2 linked regions of the Homo sapiens genome follow. The protein of the gene in region 2 purifies or fractionates together with the protein of the main gene of each other region. This does not show direct contact. Each region holds a gene or a part of one and is shown on either strand. Other genes may lie near its edges.

The links. Proteins that work in one complex are often made in the same cells at the same time.
Region 1: the proteins of COL2A1 (region 2) and P4HA1 purify together in Homo sapiens (affinity purification with mass spectrometry; one large-scale study listed by BioGRID and IntAct). This does not show direct contact.

Annotation. Positions count from the first base shown.
Region 1 is NC_000010.11:73,089,318-73,094,615, forward strand, and holds part of P4HA1 (prolyl 4-hydroxylase subunit alpha-1 isoform 2 precursor), read right to left. Parts: intron 1-5,298. UniProt on the Homo sapiens protein: Catalyzes the post-translational formation of 4-hydroxyproline in -Xaa-Pro-Gly- sequences in collagens and other proteins.
Region 2 is NC_000012.12:47,997,977-48,003,274, reverse strand, and holds part of COL2A1 (collagen alpha-1(II) chain isoform 1 precursor), read left to right. Parts: intron 1-1,721; exon of another isoform or gene 1,722-2,290; intron 2,291-3,149; coding exon 3,150-3,356; coding exon of another isoform or gene 3,357-3,359; intron 3,360-4,843; coding exon 4,844-4,860; intron 4,861-5,073; coding exon 5,074-5,106; intron 5,107-5,210; coding exon 5,211-5,243; intron 5,244-5,298. UniProt on the Homo sapiens protein: Type II collagen is specific for cartilaginous tissues. It is essential for the normal embryonic development of the skeleton, for linear growth and for the ability of cartilage to resist compressive forces.

The sequences.
Region 1 (5,298 bases), on a different chromosome or scaffold from region 2:
ACCTATTCACTAGAGCTTTTTTGAAGAGTCACAGACATGTTGTCTGTGAATAGAAACTGCTCTTTGAAGCACACTGTTTAAAGAATGAAGACAAGCCAACAACTGGGAAAAAATATTTCCCTATCACATCTAGCTATTGCACTCCTAGGCATTAATATAAGAGAAAAGAAAGCATATCTCTCTCCAACAACTTGTACATGAATGCTCATAGCAGCTTTATTCATAATAGTCAAAAAGTGAAAACAATCCAAATGTCCATCAAAGGGTAAATGGGTTAAAAAAAATCATGGTATATTCATAAAATAAAATACTATTCAACAATAAAAAACTATGAACACATAACAACATGGATGAATCTCAAATTATGCTGAGTGTAAGGAGATTCCCCGTGCTAAAAAAAAAAAAAAAAAGCGTATATACAATTCCATTTTTATAAAATTCTAGAAAATAAAAACTAATCTTAAGCAACAGAAAGGAAACAATGGTTTCCTAGGGATACAGAGAGGGTAGTAAGGAGCAAAAGAAGGGATTACAAAAAGTCATAAGGATACTGCCGATGCCCCGGCTAGAGTGCAGTAGCGTGATCTTGGCTCACCGCAGCCTTAATCTCCAGGCTTTGGGTGAGTCTCCCACCTCAGTCTCCCAAGTAGCGGGGACTGCAGGCACACAACACCACACCTGGCTTTTTAATTTTTTTGTAGAGACAGGGTTTTACCATGTTGCGCAGGCTGGTCTTGAACTTCTGGGCTCAAGCAGTCCTCCTGCCTCGGCCCCCCAGAGTGTTGGGATTACAGGTGTGAGCCACTGCGCCTGGCCAAGTATACTCTTTTTTGAGACAGAGACTCATTTCGGTCACCAGGCTGGAGTACAGTAGCACAATCACAGTTCATTGAAGACTCAACCTCCCCAGCTCAAGCAATCCTCCTGCCTCGGCCTCCCAAGTAGCTAGGATTACAGGCAGGCACCATCACACCCAGCTAATGTTATTTTATTTTGTGTAGAGATGAAGTCTTTCTATGTCGCCCAGGCTGGTCTGGAACTCCTGGGCTCAAGCAGTCCTCCTGCCTCGGCCACCCAAAGGGTTGGGATTACAGGCCTAAGCCACTGTGCCTGACCTTGAGGATACTCTTGAAGGTGATGGATATGTTCCTTATCTTGATTGTACTGATATTTTTTTAAGTAGATATTTTTGTCAAATTTATCAAATTGTACACTGTAAATATATGCAATTTGTCCTGTCAATTTTGCTCAATAAAGTCGTTAAAATATATCAGTTTATTCAATTTATTAGTAATCACCCTTATATCAAAGATTAGTGTTTTACTTATTACTATCACTCTACTTGGTGGCAATGGTCACTATTCACTATTTTCAAATACAATATTAAGGTTTTTTAAATTCAGGCATAGTAAATTGAGGTCTATTTTCAAAATATCTTTGAGGTTAAAGGAAGTAACTGCAGGCCAGGTGCGGTGGCTCATGCCTGTAATCCCAGCACTTTGGGAGGCCGAGGCTGATGGATCACCCCCGGTCAGGAGTTCGAGACCCGCCCGGCCAAGATGGTGACACCCTGTCTCTACTAAAAATACAAAAAAGTAGTCGGGCGTGGTGGCGGGTGCCTGTAATCCCAGCTACTCGGGAGGCTGAGGCAGAGAATTGCTTGAACCCAGGAGGCAGAGGTTGCCGTGAACCGAGATTGCGCCACTGCACTCCAGCCTGGGTGACAGAGTGAGAGTCCATCTCAAAAAAAAAAAAAAAAAAAAAAAAGAAGTAACTAAATTTTGAAATCATGTAAATTTGAGAATGTCTTCATGTAACCTTTGACTATGAATATGTTGCCTGAGTTTACCAAAAAAATAAATAAATAAATAAATAAATAAATAAAAAGGAGGAAGGTTGTCAGAACCATAGGGCAAGAACAAAGGTCACACACACAAGTAACATTTTGAGGTCCTAAATTCAACCAGTAGGTTTTAGAAATACCAACTTTTTTTGTTTTTTTGAGACAGGGTCTGGCTCTGTCACCCAGGCTGGAGTGGAGTGGAACAATCAGAGCTCACAGCAGCCTTGAACTCCTGGGCTCCAGAGATCTTCCCACCTCAGCCTCCCAAAGCACTGGGATTACAGATGTGAGCCACCACGCCTAGACTAAAATAAACATTTCTTGATCATATTTTTGGAGAAATTAGATATGCAAATCTAGTTAATATAAGATTAGAACTGTAAGAGAAGTCTTGAGCCTACTTAAAATCAGTTAATCAATATTTAATTTATTGTTGCAGACACATGTAACAGGATATCTGATGCTTCATACACTGTTCAATGCCTTTTAATTTTATGACTTGTATGATAGTTCTCGGCTATTCATTCTTGGGTTTTACTGAAGTTCCAAAAATCAAAGAGCTTTGATTCTTGTAATGGAAATATCTAGAGAAACTTGTGTTTAACTGACTCGGCAGAGATGAAGGCCAAATTCTCATATGTACCTATAACATTACTCAAATACTATTCTTAGTACAAAAAAGTTAAATATACTCTTATCTCTGAACATGAGCTATTCAGACCAAGGCCACTCAGGTCAGAGTAGAATACTCAAAAGCTGGCTTTAGCAGTCCCTTTCCTCCTAAAAAATGGATTATTGCTCTGAGGCCCAGGTATACTCAGCTTCATCCCTCCCAAGGCTATTCTGTCAAAATTCCACTTTTATTTCCACCCAGTCTACCTCTTTCTAGTCTTCAATTATCTGTTTACTCTAATGCCAGATCCAAATTTCTCAAGTTGAGGTAAAGAGAGACAAAATAAGACCATGTATACTAGAACAGGGAAAAATGAATTCATGGTTGTAGAGGATGTGAATCTAGATATGCATTTCCATTCAGTGCTACAGATTTAATATCTAGTAAAATGTTAGCCACATGGTGCTATATCATGTAATTTTTATGTCCTACTTCTCCTATGAAACATTTCTCATCATTCTTGATTTTCCTACAGTCTACTGGCCATATTGTAAATAATTTTTTTTTCTTTTCTTTTTTTTTTTTTTTTTTTTAGAGACAGGGTCTTGCACTCTCACCCAGGCTAGAGTGCAATGGTGCTATCATAGCTCACTGCAGCTTCCAACTCTTGGGCTCAAGCGACCCTCCCACCTCAGCCTCCCAAGTAGTTAGACTACAGATGCATGCAACCTCATGCCCCCTTAATTAAAAAAAAATTTTTTTTGTAGAGAGATGGGGTCTCACTATGCTGACCAGGCTGGTCTTGAACTCCTGGCCTCAAGTGATCCTCCTGCCTCGGCCTTCCAAAGTGCTGTGATTACAGGTGTGAGCCACCATGCCTGGGCAACATAGTAAGGCCCTGTCTCTAAAAAAAAAAAAATTTAAATATAAATTTAAAAATTAAAAAATTGGTTAAAGTTTACTGTAATTATACAGGTTGATAAAATAAACCACTAAATTACAGTCCTCTCTTTGCACTACTTATAATGGAGAAACAGCTCAAGTGTCCAACAAGAGAGTAAGGATGACCAGGCATGGTGGCTCACACCTATAATCCCAACACTTTGTGGGGCAGATGGGAGAATCACTTGAGGCCAGGAGTTCGAGACTAGCCTGGTCAACAGAGCAAGATCCCATCTCTACAAAAAATTAAAAAATTAGCTAGACATGGTGGCATGCATCTGTACCCCGAGCTACACCCGGAGGCTGAGGCAGAAGGATTGCTTGAGCCCAGGAGTTCAAGGCTGCAGTGAGCTATGGTCACACCACTGCACTCCATCCTGGGCAACAGAGCAAGATCCTATCTCTTAAAAAAAAAAAAAAAAGAGAGAGTAAGGCTGAGTGTACTAATTCCACATAATATTACTATTTAAGAAAGAAATGAGTAATATGGACACATTTTTATGAAACACTAAACATGAGGAAGAGAAAGGCCCAATATAGAACTCATTCACTGATGACAACTAGGTAAGAAGTCTGAATCTCTATAATGTATTTTTAGCAAATGTCAAATCAAATATACTAACAGTCATACTGATCATCCAAAGGAAGACCAGGAAAAAGAATGTTTTTCACCACACCGAGTTTAAAAACTGCTGGAGTAACCTAAATGAGAGTCCTTTTGAATTGCCAAAGCTTTTCTTTAGGTACAATACTTATTCAACTAGAGAAACTGAAGCTGTCCTAATGACAGGACAGCTTCAATTTATACAAATAAATTTTCTTGAATAGAAACACAAAGCTTTGGCCGGGCACGGTGGCGTGATCACACCTGTAATCCCAGCACTTTGGGAGGCCAAGGCGGGCAGATCACGAGGTAAAGAGATCGAGACCATCCTGGTTAACACGGTGTAACCCCGTCTCTACTAAAAATACAAAAAATTAGCTGGGCGTGATGGTGGGCGGCTGTAGTCCCAGCTACTCGGGAGGCTTAGGCAGGAGAATGGCGTGAACCCGGGAGGTGGAGCTTGCAGTGGGCCGAGATTGCACCACTGCACTCCAGCCTGGGTGGCAGAGTGAAACTCCATCTCAAAAAAAAAAAAAAAAAAAAAAAAAAAAAAAATATATATATATATATATATATATATATATATATACACACACACACACACACACATACTCATTTTATTTGGATTTTTTATATATATTCATATATTTATACACACACAACACATTATGGTTTAATTACAAGATTCAAGATCTCACTGCAAGAAAAGCAATAAAGTTTAATGCCAAGAGCCTATGCAATTTATTTTTGTTTACTTCCAAGCCTGTTCCACTTTCAGAATGGAAAACCAAAGTTAAGTTACCATATATAGGAGAGGGCATGCAATGTGATATACTTTCACAGACTAGACAATTTAGCATTTCAACAATTCTAACAACCTATTAACTTTTGTTAAAACCCTTTTGGCAAAAATGTATTAGGGTCACCCACATATACAAGTCCAGTCAGACTTACATGCCCAGCTCGATTTTCAGAAACATTCAATACTGCCTCAAGACACCTAGATACCCTTAGAGAGTAACTTCACATCTCTTACTTTTTAGGGGTTCTTATAATAAAGTTCATGAATGGACTTGAGTGGGGGGGCAGGAAGTGACATACAAAATTCCATGTAGGGTGTATTTGCATTTTCTGACATAGGACCACACCTTTCATCAGATTCTCAAAGGATTTCATGACCTTAAAATAGTTTGAGAACCACTATTATGTATCTCACAGGTCAATTCAAGAGCAATAATTATATCCTAGTTGATAACTGGTTGCTAAGTAAAATAAAGCATTCCTTCCACAGAAAGG
Region 2 (5,298 bases):
ACGGTTGCTACAACTATTTCAACCGGTATAGTTAGAGATGGCTCTTGTAGTCGGGTCCAAATGCTGTTCGGACTGCACCTTTCTACCCCTCCTTTGGTAAGGTCCACTGTCTGGGATTATATTCAGGACAAACGAAGCCTGGAAAGTGTATTAGGTAGAGAGGATTTTTTTTTCCACGTGTTTGGGCACGTTTCCGACGGCTGGGATTCCAGCCCTGTCTTTGTATGTTACAGATTGTAAATCAATCGCAGAGGGAAACTCTTCGGCGGGGGGAATAAAAGTTCTCTGCCTTCGAGGCTCTGTGGGCCCTCTCCTGCCACCAGGCTGTTTCCAGGGATAGCGTGGAAGGCGGCGGGCTCAGGCGGGCTTTCCGGTCATTAGCGCAGCGGGGGCAGGGCTGGAGCCTGCGGCGCAGCTGCGAGGAGCCGGGAGCAGGAGACTCTGGCCGGGTCACCCGGTAGTGCGCTAAGCTGGAGGCGCGCTCCTGGGCATTTGAGGAATACAGCGTGACTATACGTGGCCTGGACTCAGACTGACTATATTTTTGTACTACATTTACAAGCACACGCCCACAAAGCTGTCTTCTTGACTGACCCCTGCCTTAGTGCGCAATGGAATTAGCTGGGTGGCTTTAAAATAATTCTCAAATTCTCCATCCGGTATTAGGGTCGCTTGCTTAATTAGGCGGTAGAGCTCTCTCATCGCCGCATCTTTCCTGGGAGGGAGTGATTCCACAGCTTCTCCGGCCCAAACCTTCCAGTCGCTCCTCCTCCCAGAGGGAGTGTGATTCTGCATCCGAGAGGCTGATTTTGCGCCCTGGAGCATCCCACCTTTTATAACTTCCCCCGCCTGGGGTCAGCGGACCCAAAGGTGTGACGTGGGGAAATGCGCAGTCTGCGTGGACGTCAGGAATGTCAGACACCTAGAGCTCGGCCACACCCCTCCTCTCCATCTTTCCACGAGTTTGAGAAACTTACTGGCGGCGGCGTCTTTGACCCTCATCTGCATTTCAGAGCCCTCGCCTCCGAAAGTGCCCCTGGCTCAGGGGAGAGATCTCAATCCTCCTTTGTGAGGCTTGTTTGCATTGGGAGATTGGCAGCGATGGCTTCCAGATGGGGCTGAAACGCTGCCCGTATTTATTTAAACTGGTTCCTCGCGGAGACCTGTGAATCGGGCTCTGTGTGCGCTCGAGAAAAGCCCCATTCATGAGAGACGAGGTCCAGTGGGTTCTCTCGTACTCCCAGACCCCCTCTCCCACAATGCCCCCCTGTGCCCGCCCGCCGCCACCTCTCGGCTCCAGCCCTGCGCAGAGCGGCGGTGAAGCAAAACAGTTCCCCGAAAGAGGTAGCTTTTTAATTGGCTTGCCACAAAGAATCACTTATACGGCCCTGCGGTAATGAGGGGAACCGGATCAGGCGCGCCGGGATGCTATCGGCAGCCGTTTTGGAGCAGCAATTATGGTGGTGCTGGGCTCCTCCGTCCACACCTAGGGGATCCGGTTACGGCGCTGGCTCCTTTCTGGGGCAGTCATTTAATCCCACTTTTCACTCTCCCGGTGTCTGTGAGCGAGCCGTGTCCAGAGCCGCAGCCACAGAGTCACTCAGCGGCTCTTACACCCAGCGCAGCCTGGCCCCGCCCCTGCGCCGGCGCTTCCCGGGCCGCCCTTCCCCGGGAAATCTGATCCGCACGGGGAGTGGCCCCTCTCCTAGCATTTCCCCCTCTCCTCCCTGGGTCCTCATGGGCGAGGGTGGGCTCTCCTGTAGTCTGGGCTGGAGCGCATTAACCGATGCCCCCTCTCCCACACCTTCCTCACCGCCTGCATTCCACTGCTCCAGCTATTTTAACGGCGGGTGTGTCCCCGCAACTTCTGTATTTTCCCTGGAATCCCTCACCCTCCTGTGATTATCTTGCCCAAAGGCTAGGCGGATTTCTTCTAGTGGGAAAGTAAAAAGGAAAGTTTATCTTTGGATTTTCACTCTCTTTAAAGAGCAGTGGGCAGGCTCGTTTCTTTCTCGCCCTCTGGGTTTGTGGCTCTTTCCTATTATTCATCCCCTGCTGCTGCTATTGCCTTGGGGATTTTGATGAGAAAAACAGCGCTGGGCGCTCCCTAGCACGTGGTGCGGGCTCTACAGCCCTTGGCTGCTAAGGAGCGCTCTTGTCAGCACAGGTTTCATTTGCAGCATGAATTCCAGACGGCAGGGCGCTGGTGGAGGAGACTAGTCCCTGCTATTCTTCCTCTGCAGTCTTGGAGGAGGCCAGGCCTGGACTGGCCAATCTTAGCCCTAGCCAGGTATTCAACGACCCCTGCTCCCCAAACTGGGGTGCTGTTTTCAGATGGAGGCAGGGCCTCTCCAGGCAGGGCTACAGGTGGAGGTCAGCACTGGGGGCGCTTTGGCTCCACTGGCCTCCTAAGCAGTTTATTAGCCTGCCCAAGCCCCAAGTGTATTGTTTGAATGGGTCTATCCCCCTCCCCAAATTGGTCCTAATTCTAATATGGTTCAAAGAATGAGACAAGATCCTAATTCTAATAGCTCGTCTTTTCACCCCCCTTTCTTATATACCTATTTTTGGAGCCTCACTGCTTATAGATTCCAATTTTTGTAGGTAGAATTTTCTACATTCCCTCTGAATGTTAGTTGTCAGTTGTATTTAGCTAATCCCATAATTCCCAGAGGAAGGCAGAAGAAAGAAGACTTCTCTGCTCCTGGGCTGGTGGAAGGGAGGTCTCGCCATTTTTCTGTCTCCTTTCTTTTTATAGTCCCAGAATTCCTATTCAGAATATCTTGTCTCCTCCCTTCCGCTCACCCTCCAACTCCCTCCACCCACTCCATCACCTGGTCTCCCCCGTATTAGGTGGGTAAAGAGAATATAGTATAGTAACCCCCCACCTTCATTGCTGGGTCAAGATTTTCACTGGTGAATAGACAACATGGTGCAAGGTGCATAATAAATATTTGTTGAATACATGGAAAAATCAATGATGTTTTAGGAAAATAATTTTTAAGTTCTATATGTCCAGGTGGCCCCAGCCTACATTCTTCAGCATTTGAATTCTGTCAAGTTGACTGCAACCTCTCTCTTTTTCTCTCTGGCTCCCCACCCCCTCCTTCCCTTGGCTCTCTGCTTCTCCCTCCCCACCCTTGGTGCAGAGGAGGCTGGCAGCTGTGTGCAGGATGGGCAGAGGTATAATGATAAGGATGTGTGGAAGCCGGAGCCCTGCCGGATCTGTGTCTGTGACACTGGGACTGTCCTCTGCGACGACATAATCTGTGAAGACGTGAAAGACTGCCTCAGCCCTGAGATCCCCTTCGGAGAGTGCTGCCCCATCTGCCCAACTGACCTCGCCACTGCCAGTGGTTGTAATTTATTTATTTCCTGTTCAACATAAATAAATTACTTGCAAGCACTGCAAACACGCTCCCATAGATGCTGGTCGTCTCTGCAAAGCAGAGGGGCTAGTTATCCATGGGACCTGGTAGCTGGGGTAGAAAGGAAAGGCCACTTCTCACTTGCAGGTTGAAACTGAGTGAACGAGCCTGAGACACTAGAGGGGTCCTTCTTTGCCCAACATCTCCAAAAACATTTGCTTCCAAGACACATGAAGGACAGATGTGATTCTACAAAAAAAAAAAAAAAAAAATCCTCTCTGAAATCATCTCTGCAAATTACTAGAGCCACTATGGAGATCAAATGCTCTGTCTGGCCAATCCACGAATTAATTCCTCCTCTGCCACCGACACCTTGTCTTCTCCTTAGAAGACTTCTATGTATGTGGTCTTCAGTGTGGAGAAAGCTCTGCCAGCTAGTGGGGAGACTGCAGGGGCAGAGGCTCCCTCTTTGAGTTATGGAACATTGGTGGTAGTTTCCTCTCTGCTATTACCTCTCTTGGAGTTGACCATTAATTCAGAAGCAAAATAATAGGAGAGGGAAGGGCTAGGCTTTGGGAGTTCTCGTGGGGACGGGTGGAGACAGAGCCCCATGTATCTGCACTGTAGTGGGTGGTTATAAACTCCCAGTTAGATCCAGTGCTGGTGGATGATATATGTGCAGGTGACCCCTTCCCAGCATTCATACAGATGTCCTATCTCCCTGCAGAGTGAGTGGGGACGCTTGTGTAGGTTTTTTGGGTAGCTCTTGCTGTCCGCTTCCTGCTGAAGTAGAGAAGGCCGTGGCAAGGGAAGTGAGAAGCTGCCTTTCCTTAACACTTCACCAACACTGGCTCCCTAATGTGCAGATTCCCAGATCCTTTCTGAGGGGCCCGTGTGAGTGAAGTGTTGATTGCCTTTACTATTTTGCTGCTACTGTGAAGGAGAGGTTATTGACTGGGGATGGCACAGGCTATGATGCTCCGATGCTCTTCATAACTCATATGCCTTGCTGTTTTTGTGTTTTTATTTGTGCTTGCTTCAAGGAGACCCAGCTCTAATGTAAGACCTTTCTAAGTACCTAACTCTTCCTCTGGGAGGGCTTGGGGTTCGGGAACGGCTCCCTACCCTGTGGGGGGAAGAGAGACTGAATCTGTGCTTTCCTTCTTGTGGCTGATTAGATCTTGAGCTCTTCATTGCCTTTTTGTGCTGCCCTTGCTCCTTTCTTTTGCATGCTGCCTGCTTTTTGAATAACAAAGTCTGGGTCACCTCCATTCCTCATGGGACCTCAGCAACCCCAGGGCCACAGTGGCCCTAACACCCCAACAGAGGGGTTCAGTGGAGTCACAGGAAGCTGCCGCCTTCCTTGATTGTGTCCTTTTACTTGTTTGATCTAATGAGTGTTTGAGTGACAAGAATAGGTATTTTTCCATCTCAAGATTCTTACCTTCTTCTTCTCTATATTTTTTCCCTTGCAGGGCAACCAGGACCAAAGGTAAGGGCTTTCTTCTTTTTCTTTTTTCATATTTTTTTGGCTTTATATTTTCTGCTTCAAAAGCAATGCTATGTTAATCCAGTCTGTGATTTTTTAGACATCAGAAGATATCTGTTTCAGAGGGTACCTCAACACAGGGGCTGCTGGCAGGGTTTTAGACTAGGGGCTTAGTGGGCTTACTCGGCTTAATCCTGTGAATGTTTCATGTTTCAGGGACAGAAAGGAGAACCTGGAGACATCAAGGATGTAAGTGCAAATTATTCTCACCCGGTATTGCAGCTGCTGCTCTAAATGGGTCATTTCCTTGTGCTCTCCTCTAACTTACCATCCTGTGGGGCTCTCTCTCACAGATTGTAGGACCCAAAGGACCTCCTGGGCCTCAGGTAAGAGAGGGAGAAATCTCTTTCTCCGTCCCTTCCTCGCTGCGCGCAAGTTACT